Linked DNA regions of Homo sapiens: region 1 is linked to region 2. Evidence: fine-mapped expression QTL. Tissue or cell type: fibroblasts. Region 2 holds a variant in brackets; the other region holds the start of a gene. All regions are shown on one strand. Distances are from middle to middle.

The links. PIP is the estimated chance that this variant, and not a neighbour inherited with it, causes the effect.
Region 1: it holds the start of SRGAP1, and the variant in region 2 is fine-mapped to the expression of SRGAP1 in fibroblasts (GTEx, PIP above 0.99).

What each region holds. Positions count from the first base shown.
Region 1 is chr12:63,841,448-63,849,576 of GRCh38, forward strand. It overlaps SRGAP1 (SLIT-ROBO Rho GTPase activating protein 1), which reads left to right and starts at 3,253. Exons shown (of 22, transcript NM_020762.4): 1 at 3,253-3,436. The coding sequence starts at 3,370. RefSeq lists silencers at 2,186-2,605, 2,666-2,725, 2,836-3,095 and enhancers at 2,258-2,759, 2,760-3,259.
Region 2 is chr12:64,167,790-64,175,918 of GRCh38, forward strand. No RefSeq gene overlaps it. Among named protein-coding and RNA genes, the nearest start is that of KICS2, 50 kb to the right of the region's middle. The variant G/A (reference allele first, on the strand shown) is at 4,111.

The DNA.
Region 1 (8,129 bases), 330 kb before region 2:
TCTGTTGCTATAAAGTAAAAAAAACTTGCTAAAATTAGATTTTAAAAAAGCAGTGCAATTAACAATGTCCACATACCCACATACTATCAGCTGACACATGCATATACATATATTACAATTTTTTACATTATTTTTCACCATCTAGCAGAGATCTGGTATCTTAGTGGAAGATATCTTGTCACTCTATTTGCAATTCCTCTAGAGTATAACACTCTTCCTTTTCCCTGGAATGCATCCCTTTTCCTCCCTAAAGTTGCCAGCTACTTACTATTCATCCTTTAAATCCAGCTCAAAACCACTCCTCTGCGAACTCTTACACCCAATCCTCTTATGCAGTCTGTTTTTCCATCCCCAGTGCTCCCAAGACTGGGAGTATTTCTATCTCTTACAGCATTATTGTACTGCTTGTAATTATTTATTTATACAGTAATAGACTGCATGATCCTTTCCGGCAGTCTTAATCTTTGAATCCCTAGTTCCTAGCGTGGTGTTTGGCACAGAGTTAAGAACTGGAGAGCCGATCACTGGATACATGAAAGAATGATCAAAGTCTAAAAGTCCCTACTTTCTTTAGATCTTGTGGGGAAAACACTTGAGGGGATACACCTTTGGACACATCATTTTGATAAATCAGGCCCATAATATTTGAGAATTGATTTGAAAGGAGTCAGTAAATATCTCAAGTGGTGTGAGTCAAAAAGGCTAACAGAACCAGGTGTGGTGGCTGATGCTTGTAATCCCAGTGCTTTGGGAGGCTGAGGTCGGAGGATTTTCTTTTTTTTTTTTTTTTTTTTTTTTGAGAAGGAGTCTCCCTCTGTCGCCCAGGCTGGAGTGCAGTGGTGCAATCTTGGCTCACTGCAACCTCCACCTCCTGGGTTCAAGCGATTCTCCTGCCTCCGCCTCCTGAGTAGCTGGGATTATAGGCACATGCCACCATGCCCGGCTAAGTTTTATATTTTTAGTAGAGATGGGGTTTCACCATGTTGGCCAGGCTGGTCTCGGACTCTTGACCTTGTGATCTGCCCACCTCGGCCTCCCAAAGTGCTGGGATTACTGGTGTAAACCACCGTGCCCAGCCAGAATCTTTTGAGGCCAGGAGTTTGAGACCAGCCTGGGCCATAGAGCAAGGCTTCATCTCTACAAAAAAGTAAAAATAATAAAAAAAAATTTAAAAGGCTGGCAAGGATGGATTTAAAGTACTTAACACAACACCTGAACCATGCAAAGATGGCAAGGTAAATTCTTCGTTATATTGTTCAAAAAGAGACTAGAGTTTGAGACCAGCCTGGACAACATAGGGAGACCCCCGTCTGTACTAAAATGAAAACAAACAAACAAATAAAATAAAAAGAGACTAGACACGATAGATCTTGTAAAAGGTATCTATTAAAAACGTGGCCGGGCGCCGTGGCTCACACCTGTAATCCTACCACTTTGGGAGGCCGAGGTGAGCGGATCACTTGAGGTCAGGAGTTCAAGACCAGCCTGACCAACATGGCAAAACCCTGTTTCTACTAAAGATACAAAAATTACCCAGGCACGGTGGCGGGCGCCTGTAGTCACACCTACTCTGGAGGCTGAGCCAGGAGAATCACTTGAACCCGGGAGGCGGAGGTTGCAGTGAGCGGAGCTCGTGCCCCTGCACTCCAGCCTGGGCGAGAGTGAGACCCCGTCTCAAAAAAAACCCCCAAAAAACAAAATCAAAAAACAAAAACAAAAACAACCGTAAAAGTACTAAGTGCAATGTAGTGTCCTGTGTTGGATCTTGGAACAGAAAAAATGACACTAGTCGAAAAAATTGGTAAAATTGGAATAAAATCTGGAGTTTAGTAAATAAATAAGCTAACAACGCCGTTAAGTGTGACGTGTTTCCATACCATCGCTTTCCTACCATCCTAGCTTCCCTATCTACTGTAGGAATAGAGGATATGGTGTTCAAGGTGGGTGTTTTTCTCCGCCTCGATTGAAGAGCTTCGCGCTCTTTGGATTAACAGCCAGGTCATTCACAATTCAGTGTTCAGTTTTTCTATTGGGGTCCAGCGTCTCGGAGTAACATCCCTTTGTGTCATGGATACATCCAACTCTGGACTTCCCCATTAGATTCTGGCAAAAGCCCCACCAGAGCCCCCGCCAGAGCCAGAAGGCGGTCCCTCAGGTCAGGAAGGGGTTTTCCTGCCGCCGGAGCCGCGACCTCGGCTAGCGGTGGAGCGGGGCTTCGGCGGAGGGAGGTGCGGGGCCTCGGCGGAGGGAGGTGCCGGGGGCGCCGCCCACGGCCTCCTGGGCTCGGCGCGCGGGGCCGGGCTGCGGTTGGCCACAAGAGGCATCCATCTTCCCGGACCAGCCAGGCGTTTCCTAGCGGAGCAGGGGCGGGAGCTTGGACGGAGAAGGGCACAGGCCGGAGCGCGGTCCGCTCCCGCGAGCCTGGCCCCGCCTGGCGGAGCCCCGAGGAGCCACCGCCCGCAGATCGCTAGCCGGGCGCCCGCGAGGCGCGAGCCGTGTGCGCACCCTCAACTTTGCTGCCGCCGGGGGCGCGGCTCCCGCGTGCGTGTGCGAGTGTGCCTGTCACTAGCGGCCTCCTGGGGGCAGCAGCGGAAAGGGGGACGCAGAGAAAGGCAGCCTCGGCGCACCGCGGCCAGGGAGGCAGAGGCCCCTCGCGGCGCCGGCTCTGGAGACCTAAACTCCGCCGGGGCTGTGCCCAGGGCGCGTCTGAGCGTCGCCGCCTTCACCCTCTCAGCAGCAGCGGGGACTCGCGTCAGGACTGCGATTCCTTTCGCCTGCCGAGCTGTAGCGGCAGTGTCTGCGGGCAGAGGAGCGGCGGCCGTGGCAGCAGCATCCCCAGCCCGGGCGGGACCCTTGAGCGCCGGAGCCGACAGCTGGAGGCAGGAAGGGAGGGTTGTGGCGCCCGAGCTGGGCGCGTTCCCAGCGCCTGCCCTCCGCCGCTGGCCCTGTCCCGGGCGCCCGGTGCGGGTCTCGAACAATGGTGCGGAGCGCCGGCGCGAGCCCCGCGCCCGCCCAGCGGCCGTAGAGGAAGTGGCCGGGCTCCCGGCGAGGTGGGCAGGGAGACGTCCCCCGCCACTCGCTGGCTGGAGTTTGCCTGCGCGTCCGGCCTCTCCCCCGGGGATCCCCTGGGATTACCGACGGAGCTCAATTTCGAGAGTATGGTGCCAGCGCCCGGGCTAATCTAGTCCTCTCTACTCGCTCTTTTTCCCCTCCTCCTCCTACTTCTCCTCTCCCTCCTCCCTTCCCTCGGGTCGGCGCTGCCTCTGGATTGCCTGCGTGTGGGAGTACAACTCTGCCTCTCCAAGGAGAACGGGTTGTGACCACTGAACAAAACTTGCCCATTGAAAGCAAACCCGGAACAGCTGGATAATGTCCACCCCGAGCCGATTCAAGAAGGACAAAGAGATCATAGCCGAGTATGAAAGTCAAGTCAAAGGTAAGGATGGGAGCGGCTGCCTTGCTCCTTTTGTGTGCCTTCTTGTCATTGTGCTCGTGGAGTTGCGTATCTAACTTGGTGTCTGCGTGGGAGGAAGGTGGTGAGGGGACAGCTCGAGCCCTGTCTGAGCCACCTGGGCTTCCTACAAGCCAGTTAGTTCCCAGTTGCAATCCCAGTCCCGTCAAACCCACGGGGAGCTGGAAACTGGGTGACTTCCCCCGCCAGCTGCCAGCCCGCATCTCTAATGGGGAGAGAACTGGCTTTAACTTAACCACCTTCAGCTGGGCAACTTATGTGGGAAGCAGGCAGCAGTGGAGGATCCTGTCCAGCTATTATTATCACCATCATTATTCTTTTTAAATGGTAGGATTGTCACTACGTAATTTTTTTACGGAATGATTTTTGTAAAGTCTGTGAACCCCAAGCGGTCTACAGCCTCATTGAGTGCAGGCTATTTCAGATATTTACACCACTCACCTATTTACACCGCTCACAATTTATTAGGGCGAGACCCCTTTTATTAAATAGCTCCCTAAAAGCCTGGCAGTTAAACGAAGCAGTGACTAGTGGAATCTGACTCTTCCTTTATAATGGGCCAGAATTCATTGCCATCTTTCACACTCACATGGGAATATTGCTTTATCATTTTCTGGAAGCCACTTGCATGTAAAATGAAGGTTTGAATATTTGAGTAGTAGTTTCAGTCCATTTACATTGTCAACTAATGAAGGAAACCTAATTAAGGCTGATTATTTTTACTTTCTATGCCTTGTGATTAAAAATATATATATTTTCTCTCCAATACAAGTATTTTGTTTTGTTACTGAAGTGTTTCGTAAACATATGTGTTACTTGAATTTTTTCCTCCTCTTTCCTGAGGTCTCAGGAGTAGCTTTCCTGATTGAGACAATGGATGGAATGTTGGGACCGCCACTGTTCTTTGACACATTCAATGCAAAGTTCATAAAGATTGCTATGTATACACCTGTGTTTATCTATGCACAGTCTTATGAAAGGGCTACGGAGAGAGGCATTACTGTACTTCCCTTGAGCAAGGGAGGAGCAGCCTGAGTGTTCTTTTGTGTGGTCAAGTTGTAAAAATGCCTGGAGTCCTGTGAGAGGACCTGGTGGAGAAATCCTGTATCATCCAGTGTGAATACAGACCAACTCATTGTGGACACTGCAGACACAATATGCAAGATAACTTAGGTTATCTTTAGGAGGACCCCTATAATGGAGTTATCTATAGGCTGACCCCTATAATGTGTTCAGGAGACACAGATTTTTGTCTGCTTGGAATTGTGATAATTTATACTTACAGGAACTTGTTTCATTGCTATGGAAGTTGTGTTAGCAGATAAGTAATTATTTTCTTAGAGCCAGGTAAACTTTCTAATGAGACTAACCTTTCTTTTTTCAGTGAGTCCAACATAGCCTAAAACCTTTCATTCCAGGGCAGTACTCTTGTTCACAACCACCATTTCTCTGTGCAGTTTTTCCACATGGCTCTTTGTGGCAGGTCTTCAAGGGGTGGCGGTCTGGTTTTTCTGCCGCCTAGAGCACTAATTGGCAAATGCACTTCCAAATGTTGATTTCTTTATGTTTGCTGTAAGGTCACTTGCCAGTGATCAAGTCCTTATTTGAAAATCAGCGAAATGGGATGTGTTGCAATGTGTCTATCAAATTCAAACGGAAGAAAAATCATGAACATGGTGAAAATCACATTTGGAGCTAAGTCTGTCCCACAGAGAATGACCTTCTCCCTATTTCCTTCAACACTTCTTCCTTCCACACACCCACGAGTCCCTAGGCTGCTTTAGGAGTCTTCACTGCACCTGCCCTGCCCTGAGTCCAGGCTTTACCTCCTCCTGCAGTACCTACACATCCAGTATCTAACCTAGATCACTACATCCATACACAAACATGGGAATAAGGGAATATCATGGAGTCAGATCATATACGCATTAAATGGCACAAATTCACCTGGTACTTCTAGGCAAATCAAGAAGAGAGTGGGAGACAAATAACAGATAAATAGTACATGAGGCCAGCTGTCCAATGCAGGGAGAGTAGGCCCCTTAGTAAGGACAGCATGGGAGACAAGACTGGTTTTTCTGTACCCTCGCAGAGTGCTAGTCTGTTATTTACAGGTATGTGTTTTGGGATCAGGTGCAGTGGTGCATGCCTGTAATCTCCGCATTTCAGGAGGCTGAGGCAGGCGGATCACTTGGGGTTAGGGGTTCAAGACCAGCCTGGCCAACATTTTGGTAGAGAAACCACATCTTTACCAAAAAATACAAAAATTAGCTAGGTGTGGTGGCACACACCTGTGGTCCCAGTGTGCCTGTGGTTCCACTTGAACCCAGGAGGCAGAGGTTACAGTGAGCCGAAATCACATCACTGCACTCCAGTCTGGGTGACAGAGTGAGACTCTGTCTAATAAATAAATAAATAAATAAAGGTATATGTATTTGGAACAAACTACTTTTTAAATTACAGTCAGCAACTTTATCTGATGATAAAAAAAAATTCTGTTCTATTGCTAAAGGAAAACCTGACTGTGTGGGACTCATTAAGACATAAGTCTAGGCCAGGCACGGTGGCTCACGCCTGTAATCCCAGCACTTTGGGAGACCGAGGTGGGCGGATCACTTGAGGCCGAGACCAGCCTGGCCAACATGGTGAAACCCTGTCCCTACTAAAAATACAAAAATTAGCCGGACATGGTGGTGCATGCCTGTAGTCCCAGCTACCCTGGAGGCTGAGTCAGGAGAATTGCTTGAACCCGGGAGGCAGAAGTTGCAGTGAGCTGAAATTGCGCCACTGCACTCCAGCCTGGCTGACAGAGTGAGACTCTGTCTCAAGAAAAACACAATGAATAAACATACATATTGGACTCTATAGGTGACTTAGGTGTGTGGGTGATTTCAAGAGTCATTTTGATTATATGTATTTTTTTTTCTACCTTCTAACTTAGAACCTAACACTCTAGAATATTTTCCCCTGTTACTCTCTCCCATTTTCCCTAATAACAACTTTATTTATCTCAGAATTTTTGAGATAATGTTTTGACCTAAAGGAATGACTTCAGATATGGAATTTTTTTATTCTTTAATTTTTATTTTATATATATATATATATAAAAGGAGTATCGGTCTGCTGCCCAGGCCAGAGTGCAGTGGCGTGGTCTCGGCTCAGTGCAACCTCCACCTCCTGGGTTCAAGTGATTCTCCTGCCTCAGCCTCTGGAGTAGTTGGAATTATATACACGCACCACCACGCCCAGTTAATTTTTGTATTTTTAGTAGAGATGGGGTTTCGACATGTTGGCCAGGCTGGTCTCGAACTCCTGACCTCAGGTGATCCACCTGCCTCTGCCTCCACCTCCCAAAGTGCTGGGATTACAGGCATGAGCCACTGCACCCGGCCCAGATATGGAATTTTGCCACTGTGGCTGCCTGCACAGGTTTTGGGAACAGACTTCATGGGGCTATTCTTAACTGTGAAAAGAACCATTCCTGGTGATAATTCGTAATTTTATGTATAAGATCATAGATGTATCTAGTTGTGTGTATCATTTTGGGCAAGTCACTTAGCCTTTCTCTGGGTTTCGGTTTTCTTATCTATAAGATAAGGAGTTGGAATTCTCTTCATCTTAAGTGTCTTTTTTTTTTCTTTTTGAGACAGAGTCTCACTCTGTCACCCAAGCTGGAGTGCAGTGACACGATCTCTGCTCTCTGAAGCCTCTGCCTTCCGGTTTCAAGTGATTCTCATGCCTCAGCCTCCTGAGTAGCTGGAAATACAAGCGTGCACCACCATGCCTGACTAATTTTTGTAATCCTAAGTGTCTTTGAATCTAATTGAAGATGTCATATCAGTTCATATTAATTGCCTCATAAAATTTTCAAGCTTTTAAAGTTTTCAGTTGGCTGCTCTGTTTTGTGGAGAATCATTTTTGCTTTCACTTTTTTTTCATAAGTTCATGGACAGTGTATAAATTGAGTTTTTGGAGAATTAAAATAGAATACAATAAAGAATACAGAAAAAACAGTAATCAAAACCACATGCAGAGAAATGTAGCACAGAATTGTAAGACAGAAGAATCAGGAATGATACAAGTGGTTAAACAGTGGATAGGTTTAAATGGGGGACAAAAGGGGACCCCAGGCAACAGTTTTAAAGAATGAATTGAACATTTCATGCCTCTTGGTCAAATTCTCAAAGACTTAGAATTAAGAGAAATAAATCTCTTGTTTGAATAGGCCATTAGAAAGCAAGCATGTCTGGAAAAGTGTATGAAACCCAAACCAGTTGACTATGCTATTTGTTAGCATCTCTGGCAAATAGCGTAGCAGTGGAAGGGATTGAATAATTGGCTAGCAGAAGGTTTTGAATTATCTGTGGACTTTAGTGATCTATGTAATTCTTGTATTCTGCAGCAAAAATATTGTGGAGCTACACATATGGGAACAATAAAGACTCATAAAGACATGTTTTATGAAGTGGAACTTATAGATGAGAGGCTGTGTTTGTTTTTAATAATGCATGTTGCTAGTTGCTAAGAATTGACAGTTATTATTTGTAGTATTTTCCTAGAGATAGCACCATATTTATCTACATGGAATATGTACAGGGAGTGCCAAGAAAATCTGTTGTTCTTTGACCACTCTGCAGCCTGACATACAAATAATACA
Region 2 (8,129 bases):
AGGAGAGAGAGATTTAGGAAAAATGGCTAATGCATGCTGGGCATAATACCTTCGTGATGGGTTGATAGGTGCAGCAAACCACCATGGTACACGTTTACCTGTATAACAAACCTGCACATCCTGCATATGTACCCCAGAACTTAAAATTAAAATTTAAAAGAAGAAAGAGATGATGGCTTGGAAAGGACTCAGCCAGAACTTATCCTCGTTTTACCTGGTTTAATCACTTTAGCATTTAGAAGCAGAACCATGGCAGAAAGTGTTTTGTTTCATCTTAGAGGTATTCTAGTTTCTCTCTTTTTTTTTTAACAAAAAAAATATATTTTTAAAGGAAAAAATAAAGGTGATCAAAAATGAGTAAAATTGGCCAGGCGCAGTGGCGCATGCCTGCAATCCCAGCACTTTGGGAGGCCAAGGCGGGCTGACTGCCTGAGGTCAGGAGTTCAAGACCAGTCTAGCCAACATGGTGAAACCCTATCTCTGCTAAAAATACAAAAAAATTAGTTGGGCATGGTGGTATTCACCTGTAATTCCAGCTACTCAGGAGGCTGAGGCAGGGGAATGGCTTGAACCAGGGAGGTGGAGGTTGCAGTGAGCAGAGATCGCACCACTGCACTCTGGGGAAGAGAGCGAGACTCCATCTCAAAAAAAAAAAAAAAAAAAAAGGGCCAGGCATGGTGGCTCACAGCTATAATCCCAACACTTTGGGAGGTCGAGGCAGGCGAATCACCTGAGGTCAGGAGTTCAAGACCAGCCTGACCAACATGGAGAAACCCTGTCTCTACTAAAAATACAAAATTAGCCATGCGTGGTGGCACATGCCTGTAGTCCCAGCTACTCGGGAGGCTGAGGCTGGAGAATCGCTTGAACCCAGGAGGCAGAGGTTGCGGTGAGCTGAGATCATGCCACTGCACTCCAGCCTGGGCAACAAGAGCCAAACTTCGTCTCCAAAAAAAAAAAAGAAATGAGGAAAATTTGTTTAGCATGGTGTGAAACAAGATACATAATAATATTCACTGAATAAAGAAAATACTCAACCAAAACAAAACAAATAAATAAAATGGTCATCCATAACAGCTCATAAATCTCCACTTGGAAAAAGAAAAGTTACAATATATCTTGTTTAGAATGGGAGTGTATTGATGAAGAAAAAATAGTAAGCCTCATTGCCAGAGAACCAAATGCCTCCAATGATGTAAATAGGGAAGAAGGGGTTCCAATATATCTGCTTATGTACCCCTCAAAATAACTTATGGAAACTGGGGATAACTTACATTGAATAGAGGAAATTTCAAAATAAGAATCCATGGCCAGGCATGGTGGCTCATGCCTGTAATCCCGACACTTTGGGAGGCCAAGGCGGGGAGATCACTTGAAGTCAAGAGTTCCAGACCAGCCTGGGCAACATGGCAAAACCCCATCTCTACCAAAAATATAAAAAATTAGCTGGGCATGGCAGTGCACACCTGTGGTCCCAGCTACTCAGGAGGAGCTACTTCAGTGGGAGGATCGTTTGACTTGAGCCTGGGAGGCAGAGGTCACAGTGAGCCGAGACTGTGCCACTGCACTCCAGACTGAGCAATAGAGTAAGACCCCGTCTGAAAATAAAAATAAGAAGAATTCATATTAGGTCATATGCAGATCATGGTTTTAAAAGTCTACTAGAATTGAGAAATATTCTTAGAATGAAGATAACTGAGTCTTGGCAATGCAAGATGAGCAGAAAAAATTCTGTAAAATAATTACCAGGAAGTTCTAGACCTGGAAATATATTGGTCACAGTGAAGACAGGAGATAGCAGTGGTGCGATCTCAGCTCACTGCAGCCTCTGCCCCTGGGTTCAAGCGATTCTCCTGCCTCAGCCTCCCGAGTAGCTGGGATTACAGGTGCGCACCACCACGCCTGGCTAATGTTTGTATTTTTAGTAGAGACGAGGTTTCGCCATACTGGCCAGGCTAGTCTCAAACTCCTGACCTCAGGTGATCCACCCACCTCAGCCTCCCAAAGTGCTGGCATTACAGGCATGAGCCACTGTGCCCGGCCGCACCATCCTTATTACACTCTAGAGTTACACTGCCTGCGCTCCAACCTCTAACTGCTAGTCACAGTAAAATTTCCAAAAGTCCATCTATTCCCTCTTAGGCTCTCATTCCTCCCATATTATGGGCCTTGAGGTTCCTTCTTGCTTCGAAGTGCTTCAGGGGATGCAGTAGTTGTCTCCTTGGTCCTGTACTGATATGCTGAATATGGCAAAGAAGCACCAACAGTTGAGTAGTTGCTGGCCTTTTTGAGAGCTGTGTCCAAAGCACAGTACTGGACAACATCCCTGCCTGCAGGGTAAACACAGCAGCAGCTTCCTCCGAAGCAGCGAATCTAAAATTGCCAACGCTAACACAAAGAATCAGAGGAACATGTTGGCACATGACTGAGAGGCTCAAACAATTACACAGAAGGAGTAAATAAGCATTTCAGTAAAACAGATGCTACAGGCAACATATCACATAATTGTGCCTAGTAGGTGAAGGAAGTACTTTTCTCCTTAGCATATCTTTGGTGGTAATTATTTGTCAGTTTGCCCAACTGGTGGAACAAATGAGATCATTTTCTCATTTACAGCTATTCTAGAAAAAGCAATAGAGAGAGTTGACTTAAAATGTAATGTTATTTTAAACTATGCAAGATATATTAACTTGTTAATACATGTAAATTTTCTACTTGTCCCTTTGTCATTATATCATGGATATAGGAAACAAAAGGAAGAATTATGTATGCATGGATATAGGAAACAAAAGGAAGAAACAAAAGGAAGAATTATGAAGAATTATGAGTCAGGATAAGCACTCCCATGAACTAGAAAGTCCCTGAGTTAAAGAGTTAAGGAATTTGGTATCCTTCTTTCTGAGTTAAGGAATCTGGTATCCAGAGAATAAATGATAAAAATATCAATGTTACATTTCTGCATGCAGCTGGAAGCAAGACAGGCTTCATAACGGTTCTAGACTTCCACTGTTTACGGTTTACATGGGCATCCTTTTCCTTTCCTCTTCTTTTTTTAAATGTACATGCTATGGATCTATATTGTGACTTAGCTCTTAGCACCTCACAAAAGTCTGCTTGTTTTAGCCCCATGAGCATCTACAGCTTTCTCAGCTCTTTGCTGGGAAGAGGCTTTTAGGGTGGATGTTTATACTACACTTAAGAAAGAATTCCTTCTGCTCTGATGAGCAGGAAAGACAGTTAAAGACAAAAATAAGTCAATAATCTTTAAAAAGGGGAACACATCATCTCACTTCTTCACGCAAACCCCCCATGACACTGAACCCTTAAATGCAGATAAGCCTAAAACTATATATAACCCTGGACTTAGCAGTTTTATATGCTAATGCATTTCCGTTTTCTTTAACTCAAGGTAGTTTGAGTTGTCACTAGCAACAGTTTAGATTAATACAGACACCAAATTATTAACAGTAATTATCTTCTAGTAGTGAAATTACAGGTGACTATTTTTCCTTTCCGTTTTGTTTGCTTTTTAGTATTGATAATAAATTTACTAATTTTTCAATAAAAGAAAAACTAAGGCATTATTTTAATGTATGGAGGAGAGAGATGGAACTTCACTGGGGATGGAGAGCTGATGGACACCCAATCAACCTAAGAAAAGGATGCTTCTTGGCTATCTCCACTCCCTACTCCACTTCCAGGGTTCTCTCGAACTCCATTCCCCACCCCCAATCCCAACACTCAGGTTTCTTGCATAATCCAATTTTTTAAATCCAGAGATAGGGGAACAGCATTAATAATTTCTGAAAGTCTCTGCCAAGTCTGTGATTTTCAGAATGACCCCTATTCCTGCTTGGGTCATAATTTAACTCTAATTAAATCTAAGGTTGGTGCTGTATTTTTCTGTGCAAGAGAAAAGCACAGAATATGAGAAATTCTTTTTTCTTTCCAGTAAACACTTTCATACTTAAAGAAAAAGAGAACAACTATTGATGGGACTTTGGACACGGACAGCTAGAAATTCCATTGAAGTTAGTTTGAACTTGTTGAGCATGTTTCATTTGCAAAGAACAAAAAAAAAATGGGCATAATTTGCTGCTGGAAAGAGTT[G/A]GTCACCTACCTCCTCATTCAAGCTCCTCATTCAAGGAAGTGACACTATTACCATGAGGAGTCATGGAATGTATCTGGGGACTGACTCATCTGGGGCTCCCTAAGACAGGCTCTGGGTCTCTCTGGAAATTTGGATAACAATTTGGGACCTGTGGCCATCTCAAGGTTCTTGTCTGTGACCAGTAAGTCTGGGCAGAGGACAAAGAGTATCAGCATTCATTTTGGCAAGCAAAATAAACTGACTCTGGATAATTTATGCAAAAGCTGAATTTATTTAAAGCTATTTTAGTAGTTCAGAGAACCTGCAGGAAGACCAGAAAATTAGGCTTGAGGGTCTCCTAGCTAGGAACTCACTCAGGGTTATGCCACAGAAATGATTAGAAGACATCACTGCCTCTGTCACTGTCCCTGGACTCAGACCCAGCAGCCAGTATCTACCACCCCCAACACTACCTCTAGGCAGGCAGACAGGCAGGCAGGGAGGGAGGGAGGGAGGAAGGAAGGAAGGAAGGAAGGGAGGGAGGGAGGGAGGGAGGGAGGGAGGGAGGAAGGAAAAGAGGAGGGAGGAGGGAGGAAGGAAAAAATGGGACGAAGGGAGGAGGGAAAGAATGAAGGGAGAAAGGAAAAAAGGAGGACTGAAGGAAGAAGGGAGGAGGGAGAGAGGAAAGGAGGGAGGGAGGAAAGAAAAAGATTGCCTAACTATAACAGCAAGCCAGTTGGTGGTAGTACCTTCATGCCCTTTCTTCCCTGCAGGGGACATTGCTGGACACCTTTCTGATGGATTATTTCTTATAGGTTGGTTGGGAGCCCTGAACACACTGAGTCTGCCCCAAGCAAGATGAGCAGTTCTCACCTTATGGCCACCTCTTCACTTCCTGCTGGGGCCTTCCAGCATGGCTCATAGAGTGATCACTGGCTTCACTTCCTTTGGCTGAAGCTCATCTGCCATATCTTCTTTGAAAGCAAAGAAGCTATTTTAATAAAGCCCAAGGAGGTTAGCAAGAAATTATTTCTGCTCTGGAATATGGGCTCTGTTGTCACATCATCTAAGAGAACCTACAAATCTAGACTTTTGTGTAAATTTGAAAATTATTCCAGTCTTGCATCTTAATCTTCAGTTTGTAATCCTTAAGGGAACTCAAATCTTAGTCCAAGAAGAGGCCTTTAAAAAAAAGGGCATTTCTGCCCCCCACCCCCACCCCATCTGCTCTTCTTGCCTCGTTTAATAACACCTTACTTCTCACAAACCCCTTCTGATGTTGTCCATCTCACTAGGCCAAGGAAACCCAGCTATGCTCCCAGGAACATCAAGAGATTGCTTCCTTACCACCCCCTGACCCCTTACCTACTCCTGTGCCCCAACACTGCAGAGAATGGTGAAGTATTTCTGTCTGATTTCATGAAGCTTGTCACCATTTCTTTCAGATCCCAGCCAGGGAGTTGCTGGAAACAATCAACAATGAAAATAATATGGTGTTGCAGTCTGCTATGGGCTGAAGTGTGTCCCCTTAAAATATATGTTGAAACCCTAACTCCCAGCACTCAGGATGTGACTGTATTTGGAGACAGGGCCTTTGAAGAGGCGATTAGGTTAAAATGATGCTGTTAAGGTGGGCCCTAATCCAATCTGACTGGTGTTCTTTTAAGAAGAGGAAATTTGGACAAACATAAGAGACACCAGGGATATGTGCACACAGAGGAAAGGGCACATGAGGACTCAGGGTAAAGGTCACCATCTACAAGCCCAGGAGAGAGGCCTCAGGAGAAACCAGATCTGCTGACACTCCCATCTGGAACTCCAAGGCTCCAGAACTGAGATAAGATACATTTCGGCTGTCTAAGTCACCTGGCCTGTGGTAATTTGTTATAGCTCCAGCAGGCCAATCCACAGGCACCGGAGGGAGGCAATAGGCAGTAAAAAGGGGGAGGATCTCAGACAAAAGCCCAGCCTCCTCCTTATGCAGGATTGGAACCCTCAGGTCACAGAGCCTGAGTTCGGATACAGGGGGTGTTCGACCCAGCAAGGTCTACTGAGCCTCCCGCAGGATTTCATGTAAAGTAGTGTATCTATAATAATGAGGGGTTACAGATTATAGGAAAGGCTCTTAGAGGTTCCTTCTAAATCCCCAAGGGATTTTCCTTCATTACAGAATGTGAGAATTACTGTCACAAATATCCTGTAAAAATTCTATAGCAGCAAACTCGCAGTATAAAAATATACCAAAAGGTCTTTTCCAGAGTTCATGTTAATACAACAAAAATAATCTCAGAAAAATTTAGAGGTCCATGAATTCAGATTTGATCCAATATATTTTCTCTAAAATCTCTAACAATCCCCAGATTTAGCCAACCCGATAATATTACCACTTATGGCTGGGTACAGTGGCTCACACCTGTAATCCCAGCACTTTGGGAGGCCAAGGCAGGTGGATCACCTGAGGCCAGGAGTTCGACACCAGCATGACCCACATAGTGAAACTCCATCTCTACTAAAAATATGAAAATTAGCTGGGCGTGGTTATGGGCGCCTGTAATCCCAGCTACTCGGGAGGCTGAGGCAGGAGAATCGCTTGAACCTGAGAGGCGGAGGTTGCAGTGAGCCGAGATAGCGTCACTGCACTCCAGCCTGGGTGACAAGAGCAAAACTCCATCTCAAAACAAACAAACAACAACAACAAATATATATATATATGTATGTGTGTGTGTGTGTATACATATACACACATATATACATATATACTTATATATATACGTATATATGTACACATACGTATACATATGTATACATACGTATATGTATATATACGTATATATATAACCACTTATTCTTTTCTAGAATCTCAAAATAAGCAGCTAAATTAATTCCTTGGGAGAAGTCAAGAAAAAGGTCACTCAAGTCTGCGTAACAAGTGAACAAGATCTATTTCCCATTGATGATCCCACAGAGTGGACTCTAAGCAAAAAGGAATAAAACCCCCATCAGCCCAGGGAGGGAAAAAGAGCCAGGCTTCTGGTGCTTCTCAAAAGGATCTGCCTTAAAGTACAATTCTGATAAACACCTCAGTGAGGAACAGGTGATTGCAATGCATTGGTAGAAGTCTCATTTATCATTTAGTCCAATATAATTATTCTGACCTATTCTATTTCATACCAAAATAACTTTGGAGGAATCCAATGGAGTTTGGCAGAAACACTTTTGGGGGGATGAAAAGAAACGTAGCTTTTGCAGTGTCATTCTTTAATATGAGCCACAAAAGACTGTGTAGGGGTGGGGGTGTCTACTCAAATCACAGAGGTGAAAAGACTTAAGACATGAGATCCAAGAATAAGAAAAGATTTATAGATCCTAAAATGTATAGAGTATGAAAATGGACACCCTTTAAAAGTATTGTATGACATGGTCAAGTTTTAAGGAAAGAAAGAAAGAAAGGGCTTAATGAATCCACCTCTTCTAAAGAAATTGGTCCCCCAAATTTCCATTTCATTGCCATGACAACTAGTACTCCATCATTGCCATGGTAACCAGCTGAATAGCATTAGTCTAAAGACAAGCTCTCTGATTGGGTGACCAACGAAAGCCAGTAGGTGCCCCACCACAATGCTGAAAGACTGTTTTGCAATCACTTTGACCTATTTCTAGCTTTTCAATGTGTTTTAATTCTCCAAAGTGTTTCCCTAAAACCAAATGTTTTTTGGAATGAGACAATTTCAAGAAGTGCATAATAACTGTATTCCTGCATCTCCCTGCTAAGTTCAAGACCTTGTTTTCTATCCCAGAAGTGTGGTAATGTATGACAGCCATACCCTTCACCATGACTTGCAGTTTAATTATGACATCCCCTCTGTTACAGCAACTAGGCATGCTAGCCACATCTAAACCAGATGTTGGTTGCTGGTGACAACAAGCTGCCTTCTTTGTTTGATGAGGCCACTGACAAGTTGAACTGCAAGGAAACTTTGACGGTGGGAAGTGACAATCCAGTAAAATAACAGAGGGGGGCCAGGTGCAGTTACTCTTG